Linked DNA regions of Homo sapiens: region 1 is linked to region 2. Evidence: fine-mapped expression QTL. A gene starts in region 2. The other region holds a variant in brackets. All regions are shown on one strand. Distances are from middle to middle.

Region 1 (5,379 bases), 200 kb after region 2:
AATGGCTTCCCCCTAAGATTGAGAACAAGGCTAGGATGTCAGCTTTCACCACTTCCACTCAATATTGTATTGGAGGTTCTAGCTAGTGCAATAATGCAAGAAAAGCAAGCAGACAAGTAAATGTATCTAGGCTCAAAAGGAAAATGCGAAGCTGTCTTTATTCTCAGACAACATGATCCTGTATGCAGATAACACCAAGGAATCCAAAAAATTACCAGAACTAATACATGAGTTCAGCGAGATGTCAGTACTGAACAATATATAAAAATCAGTTGTTTCTGTATTCTAGCATGGACAATCAAAATGGAGTCAAGAAAACTGTTCTCTTTTTAATAGCCTCAAAATTAATAAAATCTTGGAATAAAATTTTAAAAAAGCAAGTGTAAGTCTTGCATGCTGAAAGCTACCAACGATTGCTGGGAGAAATTAAAATCTGAACAAAAATGATGGACATTCTGTGTTCATGGATTGGAAGGTTCAATACTATTAAGGTAAAGTTGTCCCAAATTGATCTGTAGATTCAATGCAATTCCTATCAAAATCTCAGAAGGCTCCTTTTCCTTTTTAGAACTTGGCAAAGTAATTTTAGGTTTTATATATGAAATCCAAATAAACCAGAATAGCTGAAAGTATTTTTGAAAAATAAGAACTAAGTTGTAAAACTTACACTTCCTGATTACAAAACTTTATTATAAAGCTACAGCAATTGAGACAGTTATACTGACACAAAGACAAGTATAATGACCAATGCAACTAAGTTGAGAGTACAGAAATAAGCCTTTATGTCTATTGTCGTTAACTTCTCACAAAGATGCCTAGGCACTTCAGTGTGGGAGAGGATAGTCTTTTTGATGAATGGTGCTGGGACAGTTGGATATCCACATGCAAAAAGACGAAGTTACCGCATCCAAACTCAAAAGAGTCAGAAACCTAAATGTAATAGCTAAAACTATAAATGTTTCAAAATAAAACATGGGAGAAAAATCTATGATATCTTGGGACAGGCAAAGAATTTAGACATGGCATCAAAAGCATGATTTATTAAAGATATAAATAGGACTTTATCGCAATTCAAAACCTTTGGGCACTTAGAAAGACACCATTAAGAAATGAAAAGAGTCAGGTGTCAGGTGGGTGTTTTGTTAAAATAATAAGAAAATGAAAAGAGAAGTGATAGACTTGGAAAAAAATTTGTAAATCACATACCTGGTGTAAGATTTGTATTTAGAACATGCAAAGAATTCTATAACTCAATAAGAAGACAATCTAATTTTAAAATGGGCAAAACATCTCAATATTTTACCAATGAAAGCACATGAAGAGCGGATAAGTGCATGCAGAGATACTCAACATCATTAGTCATTAGAGAAATGTAAATGACACTGCAAGATACTACTAAATACCCATTGGAATGTCTATAATAATTTAAAAACACAGATGATAACAAATATTGACAAGGATGTGGAGAAATGAGAATGTTTATACGTTGCTGGTGGGATGTAAAATGGCACATCTACTTCTCCACTTTGAGAACATTTGGCAGTATCTTTTTTAAAAAGCTAAAGATAGATTTTTCTATACAACCTAGCAATTTCACTTTATTATCTACCCAAGAGAAATGAAAATATATGTTCACACACAGACTTCTTCACAAAGGCTCATAGCAGAATTTCTTTATAATAGCCAAGGAGTAGAAACAACTCAAAATGTCCATCAATTGGTGAATGATAAACAAAATTTGGTATCATATAATATTATTCAACAATAAAAAGGTGAACTACTGATACAGGCTACATTATGGATGAACCTCAATTACATTACACTAAGTGAAAGAAGCCAGATGCAAAACGCTACATATTGGGTGATTCTATTTATATGAAATGTCCAAAAAATGCGCAGTTATAGAGACCAAGAGCAAATTAATGGTTGCCTGGGGCTGGAGATGGGAGTAAAGACTGACTACAAATGAAGATAATTGGTATTTTTGGCATGATGCAAATACTCTATAACTTGATTTTGGTGATGGATATACAACTCCATAAAAGTCACTAAATTGTGTACTTCAGATGGTACCTTTTATTATGCAAATTAGATTTCAATAAAACTGTTACAAATTGTGCCTGCGGACTCCACTAGTGTTGGTGTGTATACCCAAGGCTCCTGGGAAGCAGCTTTTTTTTCTAACCTTTCGTACAGCAGTAAGCAAGAGAATTCCCTATAGATTCAGAGGGCTCACTAGGGCTAATTTAAAT[C/T]TGGTAATTTATGGGCCTGATGGGGCAACCTAGGTCTTGGATGTTAGTCAAGTATTTTGAAAGAATGCCAGCAGTAGGCCGGGCGTGGTGGCTCACGCCTGTGATCCCAGCACTTTGGGAGGCCGAGGTGGGCGGATTACCTGAGGTCGGGAGTTCGAGACCAGCCTGACCAACACGGAGAAACACCGTCTCTACTAAAAATACAAAATTAGCCGGGTGCGGTGGCACATGCCTGTAATCCCAGCTACTAGGGAGGCTGAGGCAGGAGAATCGCTTGAACCTGGGAGGTGGAGGTTGCGGTGAGCTGAGATTGTGCCATTGCACTCCAGCCTGGGCAACAAGAGTGAAACTCCATCTCAAATAAAAAAAAAAAAGTTCCAGCAGTGCCAAGGCAGTTGAATCACATGGTTTGTCATCCCATTTTTCTCACCTAGACTTTCAGTCTTGGTGTGCTGGCCCTGATGGTCTGTGTGGCAAAGCCAGTTTCAAAGGCTTACAGTGCTGCCTGAAGACAGTATCTGGTCCTCAAGATGCATGGAGGCCATCTCTACTGCAGATTTCCTTGGGGTCCAGGCCTCCCATTATGTTGGCCATTCCAGCCCCACAGCAGAGGTTCCTCTGGAGATGGACATCTAGATTGGCCAGTTCTTCTCATTCTTCAAACATTCTGAAGTTCTTTTCCTCCTGAAAATCTTCCCTCTGATTATTTTTTTCTTTAACCTTTACTCCATCTGGAAATAAAATGCCCCTAAGTGTGATATGAGGTATCAGAAGAACATGGCTTTGGAGACAACAATACGGTTTAAATTCCAACTCACCTCACTAGCCATGTGACTTTTGGGCAAGTTTCTTAGCTCCTCTGAGCCTTGTATTTAGAAATCTGTAGAATGGAGAGAATCATACCCATCACAAAGGGTTATTGTGAAGATGAAACAAGATCATGTATGGAAAGACTTGAGCACAATTGACCGACATGTAGTTGGTATTCCCTAACTGTTAGAACCAGAGAGTAGAGTGGGTCAGATCGTGGGCTCTGGGTCTGAATTTGCATTTGTGCTTTTCCACTTCTAGCCAAGTGAGCTGGGACAAATTCCCTCATTTTCTGTATATCTGTTTCTGCATCTATAAAACTGGCATTAATAGTACCCACCTTATTAGGACAGTCTGAAGATTAAGTGAGTTAATATATACAGCACTTAGAATACTGCCTGTTATGTAATAAGTTTTATATAAGTGGCAGCCACTGTTCTCTCACCACCCAATACAATGCCCTATTCCCTTGGAGCAGCATATTTGATTTATGTGGATTACATGTGAGGATTACAGGGACACAGTGGGCTGTCACTCCACAGACGACCAGGTAGGCCTGGTTCATCTGGCTGGTGGCCCACCAGTGGTGGGTTGTGAATTTTCTATCTCACTACATCACATGCATCTTCTCACTCCTTCCATGCTGATTCAGAGAAAGTACCTTCTCCACAGAAGAAAGGAAGTGTTGTCAGAGTAAGCTAGTGGTTGAACTTTTCTGCAGGAATGGATTCCCTGGATCCTCTCACGACCATGGACCCTCTAAGATCCCTGCATGCAGTATTGTGGGGTGTGATGAGAGCTCCTGTAGATTTGTCTCTTCTGCCTGCAAGTACCATAAAGTTGACACATCAGGTGTTTGAATGAAGTGGTAGCAGGGATGTGCTCTGTTCTTTCTTTGTCTCAAAGAACACTTCATCGGAGACTGCCTTAAGACCTTGGGGCTCTGTAGAATATATGCAAGTTGGTTGACTTGATTTATTATTAATTACCTCTTCTGCTTTAATTTCAGCTGATTATTTGCCTTGGAACCAACCAAGGCGAGAGCCACTTCGTCTGGAACACAAATACCAGCCGGCATCAGTCAGGTTTGATAACAGAACCACACACCAGGACGATTACCCCATAAAAGGCCTTGTGAAGACCATAAGCTGTAAACCTCTGGCCATGCCAAAGCTCTGTAACATCCCCTTGGAGGATGTGACTAACTACAAGATGAGCTATGTGGCCCACCCCGTGGAGAAGCGCTTTGTGCATGAAGCAGAGAAGTTCAGGCCCTGTGAAATCCCCTTTGAAAGCCTTACCACTCAAAAACAATCCTACCGGGGCCTGATGGGGGAGCCTGCCAAGAGCTTGAAACCTCTAGCCAGGCCTCCTGGGCTAGACATGCCTTTCTGTAACACCACTGAGTTTCGAGATAAGTACCAAGCTTGGCCAATGCCCCGGATGTTCTCCAAAGCTCCCATCACCTACGTCCCTCCCGAAGACAGGATGGATCTTCTGACAACAGTGCAGGCCCATTACACATGCCCTAAGGGTGCCCCAGCTCAGTCCTGCCGACCTGCACTTCAGATTAAGAAGTGCGGTCGCTTTGAAGGCTCTTCCACCACCAAGGATGACTACAAGCAGTGGTCCAGCATGCGCACAGAGCCAGTCAAGCCCGTTCCCCAGCTGGACTTGCCCACCGAGCCCCTGGACTGCCTGACCACCACTCGGGCCCACTATGTGCCCCACCTGCCTATCAATACCAAAAGCTGTAAGCCTCATTGGTCTGGCCCTCGAGGAAATGTCCCTGTGGAAAGCCAGACCACCTACACCATCAGCTTTACTCCCAAGGAAATGGGCAGGTGCCTAGCTTCATATCCTGAGCCTCCTGGCTACACCTTTGAGGAAGTGGATGCTTTGGGTCACAGGATATACAAACCAGTTTCCCAGGCAGGCTCTCAGCAGAGCAGCCATCTTTCTGTAGATGATTCAGAAAACCCCAACCAGAGGGAGTTGGAAGTGTTAGCCTGATTTTGAAAAATAGTAATTTAGAAATTACACAGTACTTTTAAAAGCAGACAACTGAGAATTATTTGTTGGACAAAAAAGAATTCCCTAAAATGACAAAAAACAAAAAACAAAAAACCTTCACCACTTCCAGAGCACTTGAATAAAATGAGAATCACTTGACTCAGGGAAAATGACATTTAATCACCGGCTAATTAACTCCCCTTACCTTCTCCTTTACTGCATCCCCACCCCGTTTCAGGTCCTTTACTTTGTGCTTATGGAATCAAAGTTGGTCTGTGAGGGTTTCTCTGATCCAGATGTATTT
Region 2 (5,379 bases):
AGACTGTCCATTAACCTTTCCTATATCTGGACGAGGGAAAACCTCAGAGAGCACCTGGCTGCATCAATGCAGATTTTCTCTGTATATTGCAAGCCTCTCTCACACACACACACACACACACACACACACACACACACACACACACACACACCAAACAGCTTCGTAGGACTACTTCCGCCTGCAGGTCCTCTGAACAGCCATATCTCAAAATATGTGAAAGAAGTATATTTTGGGGTAAAATTTTTTGGTTTCCTTCACTACACATCTCACCTTGGGTGTTATTCTTGCCACTGGTTTCATGTTCTCAGACTCACGAAGCTGAAAAACAGTTGGGGATGCAGAATTTGATGTGCTTCATCCTTTGTGGGCTTGAAGAGTCTCTTGTTCCCAAAATTATTCCCTGGGGCCCTCTGCTTCACAGGCAAATAAAAGCAAAAAGAAGCTTGCTCAGCCTTAAGTGAGGAAATGACTCACAGGTTTAAAACAAAAAAGGAAAAGATGGAGGCATTTTGTAGGTGAAAGGGCGAGAGTCTTCTGATGCAAAGTAAGAGGTCATTAGAGCAGGGATGGATTATCAATAAGCAGAGCAAACATTTGCTTAGGGAACAAACAGCGCCGGAACACGAAAAAGAAAAGAAAAACATAATAATTTAATTACTTAAAACACTGAAGATGGCAACATAGGAAAAAACCCAAACCAGAACATTTTTGGACTTCATAACATTTTATGGTTCAGTATTTATGGCTTAGTATTTTATTTTGAATTACATGTGGGGAGGAGGGGTAAAAATACTTTAATTTTTCTTGCTAAGTAAGTACTATTATATATTCAGGTATAATGGGATAAGGGATACCATTTTAATGGGTCCGTTTGGAGCTTTAAATATGATCAACAGTATCTGTGTGCATGCAAGATTGGTTAAGAAACTGGGTTAGACCGAGTGCGGTGGCTCACGCCTGTAATCCCAGCACTTTGGGAGGCCAAGGCGGGCGGATCACGAGGTCAAGCGATCGAGACCATCCTGGCCAACATGGTGAAACCCCGTCTCTACTAAAAATACAAAAATTAGCTGGGCGTGGTGGCCCGCGCTTGTAGTCCCAGCTACTCGGGAGGCTGAGGCAAGAGAATCACTTGAACCCGGGAGGCTGGGGTTGCAGTGAGCCAAGATCGCGCCACTGCACTCCAGCCTGGCGACAGAGCGAGACTCCGTCTCAAAAAACAACAACAACAACAACAACAACAGAAAATGAAAACAAATTGGGGTAAAAGTCTCTGAGAGCTTCCTACAGTTACAACTCCAAAGCTTCACAAAGCCAGTCCCTCCTGGCTGGAGCCAGGGACTCCAACGCTGTGGGCCTCTCAGGGGGCGGACCCGCGGCGCCAGCGCCTGCTCCCTTCCCACCTCCCAACCCTCCTCTCTGCTGTATCCTCCCTGCGAGCTGTGTCGGGGGCCGGGGGGGGGGAGTGGGGGCCGAGGCCGGACAGCTTCATCTGGAAATCCCCCGCCACTCACGGGGGAAGAAGTCCCACGAGCCCTATCTGGCCTCGGGCGCTGGCGCAACTTGTCTGCTCAAATAATCTCGTTCCAAATCTGTGCGTTTTACACAAGAAACAAACAAACAAAACAACAACAACAAAAAAACACAACTGGGACTCAGATGACGTTTTAAGTTGTCTTTGAAAAACAATGCATAACCCTGCACGTATAAAGTTGCCTATGTCACATAACCCTAGGCAGCTGTCATTCTGGAGTGATCTGGAGTTAAGTTTTTTGTTTTCTTTTTCTTTTTTCTTTTCTTTTTTTTTTTTTAGACAGGGTCTCAGTCACTCAGGCTGGGGTGCAGTGGTACAGTGGCGCGATCTCGACTCATTGCAGCCTCGACCACCTGGGCTCAAAAGATTCTTTCACCTCAGCCACCCACCCGCCTGCCCCCAACCCCGCTAAACAGCCGGGACTAGCTGGGACTACAGGCGCGCGCCACCACGCTGGGCTGCTTTCTTTGTATTTTGAGAGAGACGGGGTTTCGCCATGTTGGCCAGGCTGGTGATTCGCTCGCCTCGGCCTCCCAAAGTGCTAGGATTACAGGCGTGAGCCACCGCGCCCAGCCGCCACAAAACTTTTAAAAGTTATTACTTCGCTAAAAATAACAGCGTAGAAGCCATTGTGCAGCGCCACGCGATCTCGGCTCACTGCAGCCTCGACCTCCCAGGCTCAAGCGATCCTCCCATCTTAGCCTCGCAGGTAGCTGGGGCCACAGGCGCACGACACCACGCTGGGCTATTTTTTAAAATAAAATAAAAATCTTCGCCAGGCTGGTCTCGAACTCCTAGGCTCGACAGATCCTCTCGCCTCAGCATCCCAAAGTGTTGTGATTACAGGCGTGAGCCACCGCTTCCATTTTTAGAGTTCTATTCTGAGGACTAACGCCGTTCAACAAGTTGGTGTGAATTTGTTTGCATTTTTCAAAACCCCAAAGCCGGCCTGGGCGCCATCCCCATTTGCCCCGGGCCTCTCAGGACCCCGACCACAGGCAGGACCCCGACCACAGGCAGCGCCCCGACTCCAGGCAGCGCCCCGACTCCAGGCAGGGCTACCTCCAACTCCCAGCCTCCCCAGGCCGGGCCCCCGCCCGGCTCCCGACAGGCTCCTCTCCCCGTGGCGGGGCCCCTCGCCCAGGCAGCACACCCTCTCAACCCGACCGGGCCCCCACCACTCTAGGAGGGCCGGCGTTGGGGGAGGGCGCCGGGACGTGCCCGAGGGTGACACTCGGGCTTGGGACAGGGCGTGCTGCCGCGGGTCACGTGCTGCGGAGGCTTGGGGAGGGGCGGCGAGGCGGGGTTTATAGCCCGGGCGCCCGCGGGCCCCACGCTTTGACCGGGTCGTGGCAGCCGGAGTCGTCTTCGGGACGCGCCTGCTCTTCGCCTTTCGCTGCAGTCCGTCGGTGAGTGCGCGCCCAGTGGGTGCCCCAGCGAACCGGTCCCGGGCCCCCAGCGGCGCCCAGTTGGGGTGGGGGGCTCCCCGGGGCCTTGGGACCGCTGCTCTGCTCCCCGCGGGGCTCAAAGGTGGACGGGACGCGGGGGTGATGGTCCGAGACCCCCCGCTCGCCTCGCGGCTTCCAGGTCCTGGCTGGGTAGGGGCGGTCTGCTGAACCCGCGCTTTCGACCCTTGCCTTTGTGCGTTGAGGCTTCTTTCCTGCCAACAGATTTAGGGCGATTGCTATCGAATGTCCCTTGGCCTGCTTGGGTGGTTGTGGGAAAACAATATTTGTCGAAGGGACATTATCGAAAGGGAAACGCGTTAGAAAACCGCATTTTTTTTTTGACGGAGTCTCGCTCTGTCGCCCAGGCTGGAGTGCAGTGACGCCATCTAGGCTCACTGCAACCTCCGCCTCCCGGGTTCAAGCGATTCTCCTGCCTCAGCCTCCAGAGCAGCTGGGATAACAGGCGCCCGCCACCACGCCCGGCTAATTTTTGTATTTTTAGAAGAGACGGGGTTTCACCACGTTGGTCAGGCTGGTCTTGAACTCCTGACATCAAGCAGTCCACCCCCCTCGGCCTCCCAAAGTGCTGGGATTACAGGCGTGAGCCACCGCGTCCGGCTTGGCTAGCATTTTTGTTAACAGATACTCGGAGAAACAAGAGAAGTATGTCAACAACTTTACTTCTCCCTCCTGAGTATTGCAAGTTTACACATAAGCTCTGAAACTTTGCCTCAAAAGAGGGAGTGGGGTTGTGTGGGTGTGGGTCTTTCAGGAGGGGGACCTGGAGAGCTGGAGAGAGGAAAGAAGTGCAGAAGACTACAGGGAGCTCACCCTGCATTTTTCTCTACTTGTAATCAGCATTTGCTTGGGTTGGGGAATGAATTTGGGAGAGTCTTATCCCGGTGTTCTGAAATAAGTCTCTTTTCTGCAGATTTCTTTCTCCAGGAAGAAAAATGGCATCCGTTGCAGTTGATCCACAACCGGTATGAATTTTGAGTAGCCTTTGTCTACTTTCTCTCCTTTTGTGTTTTGAGAGATTAATAAGCATACCCTCCCTACTTTGATTGCAGAGTGTGGTGACTCGGGTGGTCAACCTGCCCTTGGTGAGCTCCACGTATGACCTCATGTCCTCAGCCTATCTCAGTACAAAGGACCAGTATCCCTACCTGAAGTCTGTGTGTGAGATGGCAGAGAACGGTGTGAAGACCATCACCTCCGTGGCCATGACCAGTGCTCTGCCCATCATCCAGAAGCTAGAGCCGCAAAGTGAGTTCTGATTTTTCAAGATGCAAGTCAAGGGACTGGTCAGTGGCGAGCCCCTGAGCTCACAGCAGTAACATCTGGAACTCCTCAGCCCTTCCTGGGGCATACACTGCCTTTACCTAGAAACTTTCAGGTGACCCTCATTACCGTAAGAGGACTGTTTCTTTTCTTTTCTTTCCTTTTTTTTTTTTTTTGAGATGGAGTCTCACTCTATCACTCAGGCTGGAGTTCAGTGGCGCAGTCTTGGCTCACTGCAACCTCTGCCTGCTGGGTTCAAGTGATTCTCCTGCCTCAGCCTCCCGAGTAGCTGGGACTACAGGCTCCCACCACCATGCCCAGCTAATTTTTGTATTTTTAGTAGAGACGCGGTTTCACAATATTGGCCAGGCTTAACTCCTGACTTTGTGATCCACCCACCTCTGCCTCCCAAAGTGCTGGGATTACAGGCGTGAGCCACCGCGCCTGTCCACAGAAGGCCTGTTTCATAGCTTTGGCAGATGTTTATGATCCTTTAATTAAAAATCCCCCAGAGGATGGGCACGGTGGCCTGCACCTGTAATCCTAGCACTTTGGGAGGTCTAGATGGGAGGATCGCTTGAGGCCTGGAATTTGAGACTGCTCACTGCAGTCTCTGCCTCTCGGGCTCAGGTGATTGTCCTGCCTCAGCTCCCTGAGTAGTTGGGATTACAGGCATACACCACCATGCCCAGCTAATTTTGTATTTTTAGTAGAGACAGGGTTTTGCCATGTTGGCCAGGCTGGTCAGGAACTCCTGACCCCAGGTGATCCGCCCGCCTCGGCCTCCCAAAGTGCTAGGACTACAGGTGTGAGCCACCATGCCTGGCCATGAATGAGTTTTAGAAATGGATAGTGGTGATGGTTGTATAATGTTGTAAATGGACTTAATGCCACTGAATTGCACAGTTAAAAATGGTTGAAATGGTGAAATTTGTTATGTATATTTTACCGAAATAAAGAATAGAAATGTCATACTCCATGAGAAATCTCATACTCTCATACTTAGTAGTCACTCCCCATTTCCTAACAACCACCCTGAGGCAGCTACTCATCTACTTTGTCTTTATAGATTTGCCTATGCTGGATATTTCTTATAAATGAAATCATAAAATGTGT

Evidence for each region.
Region 1: its variant is fine-mapped to the expression of PLIN2 in blood mononuclear cells (TOPMed, PIP 0.97).

Annotation. Positions count from the first base shown.
Region 1 is chr9:18,927,748-18,933,126 of GRCh38, reverse strand. SAXO1 (stabilizer of axonemal microtubules 1) reads left to right here. Exons shown (of 4, transcript NM_153707.4): 4 at 4,072-5,379. The coding sequence ends at 5,075. Among named protein-coding and RNA genes, the nearest start is that of SAXO1, 100 kb to the left of the region's middle. The variant C/T (reference allele first, on the strand shown) is at 2,253.
Region 2 is chr9:19,124,983-19,130,361 of GRCh38, reverse strand. PLIN2 (perilipin 2) reads left to right here and starts at 2,870. Exons shown (of 8, transcript NM_001122.4): 1 at 2,870-2,943; 2 at 3,914-3,965; 3 at 4,053-4,248. The coding sequence starts at 3,936. RefSeq lists a silencer at 2,532-3,091 and enhancers at 2,604-3,113, 3,114-3,624.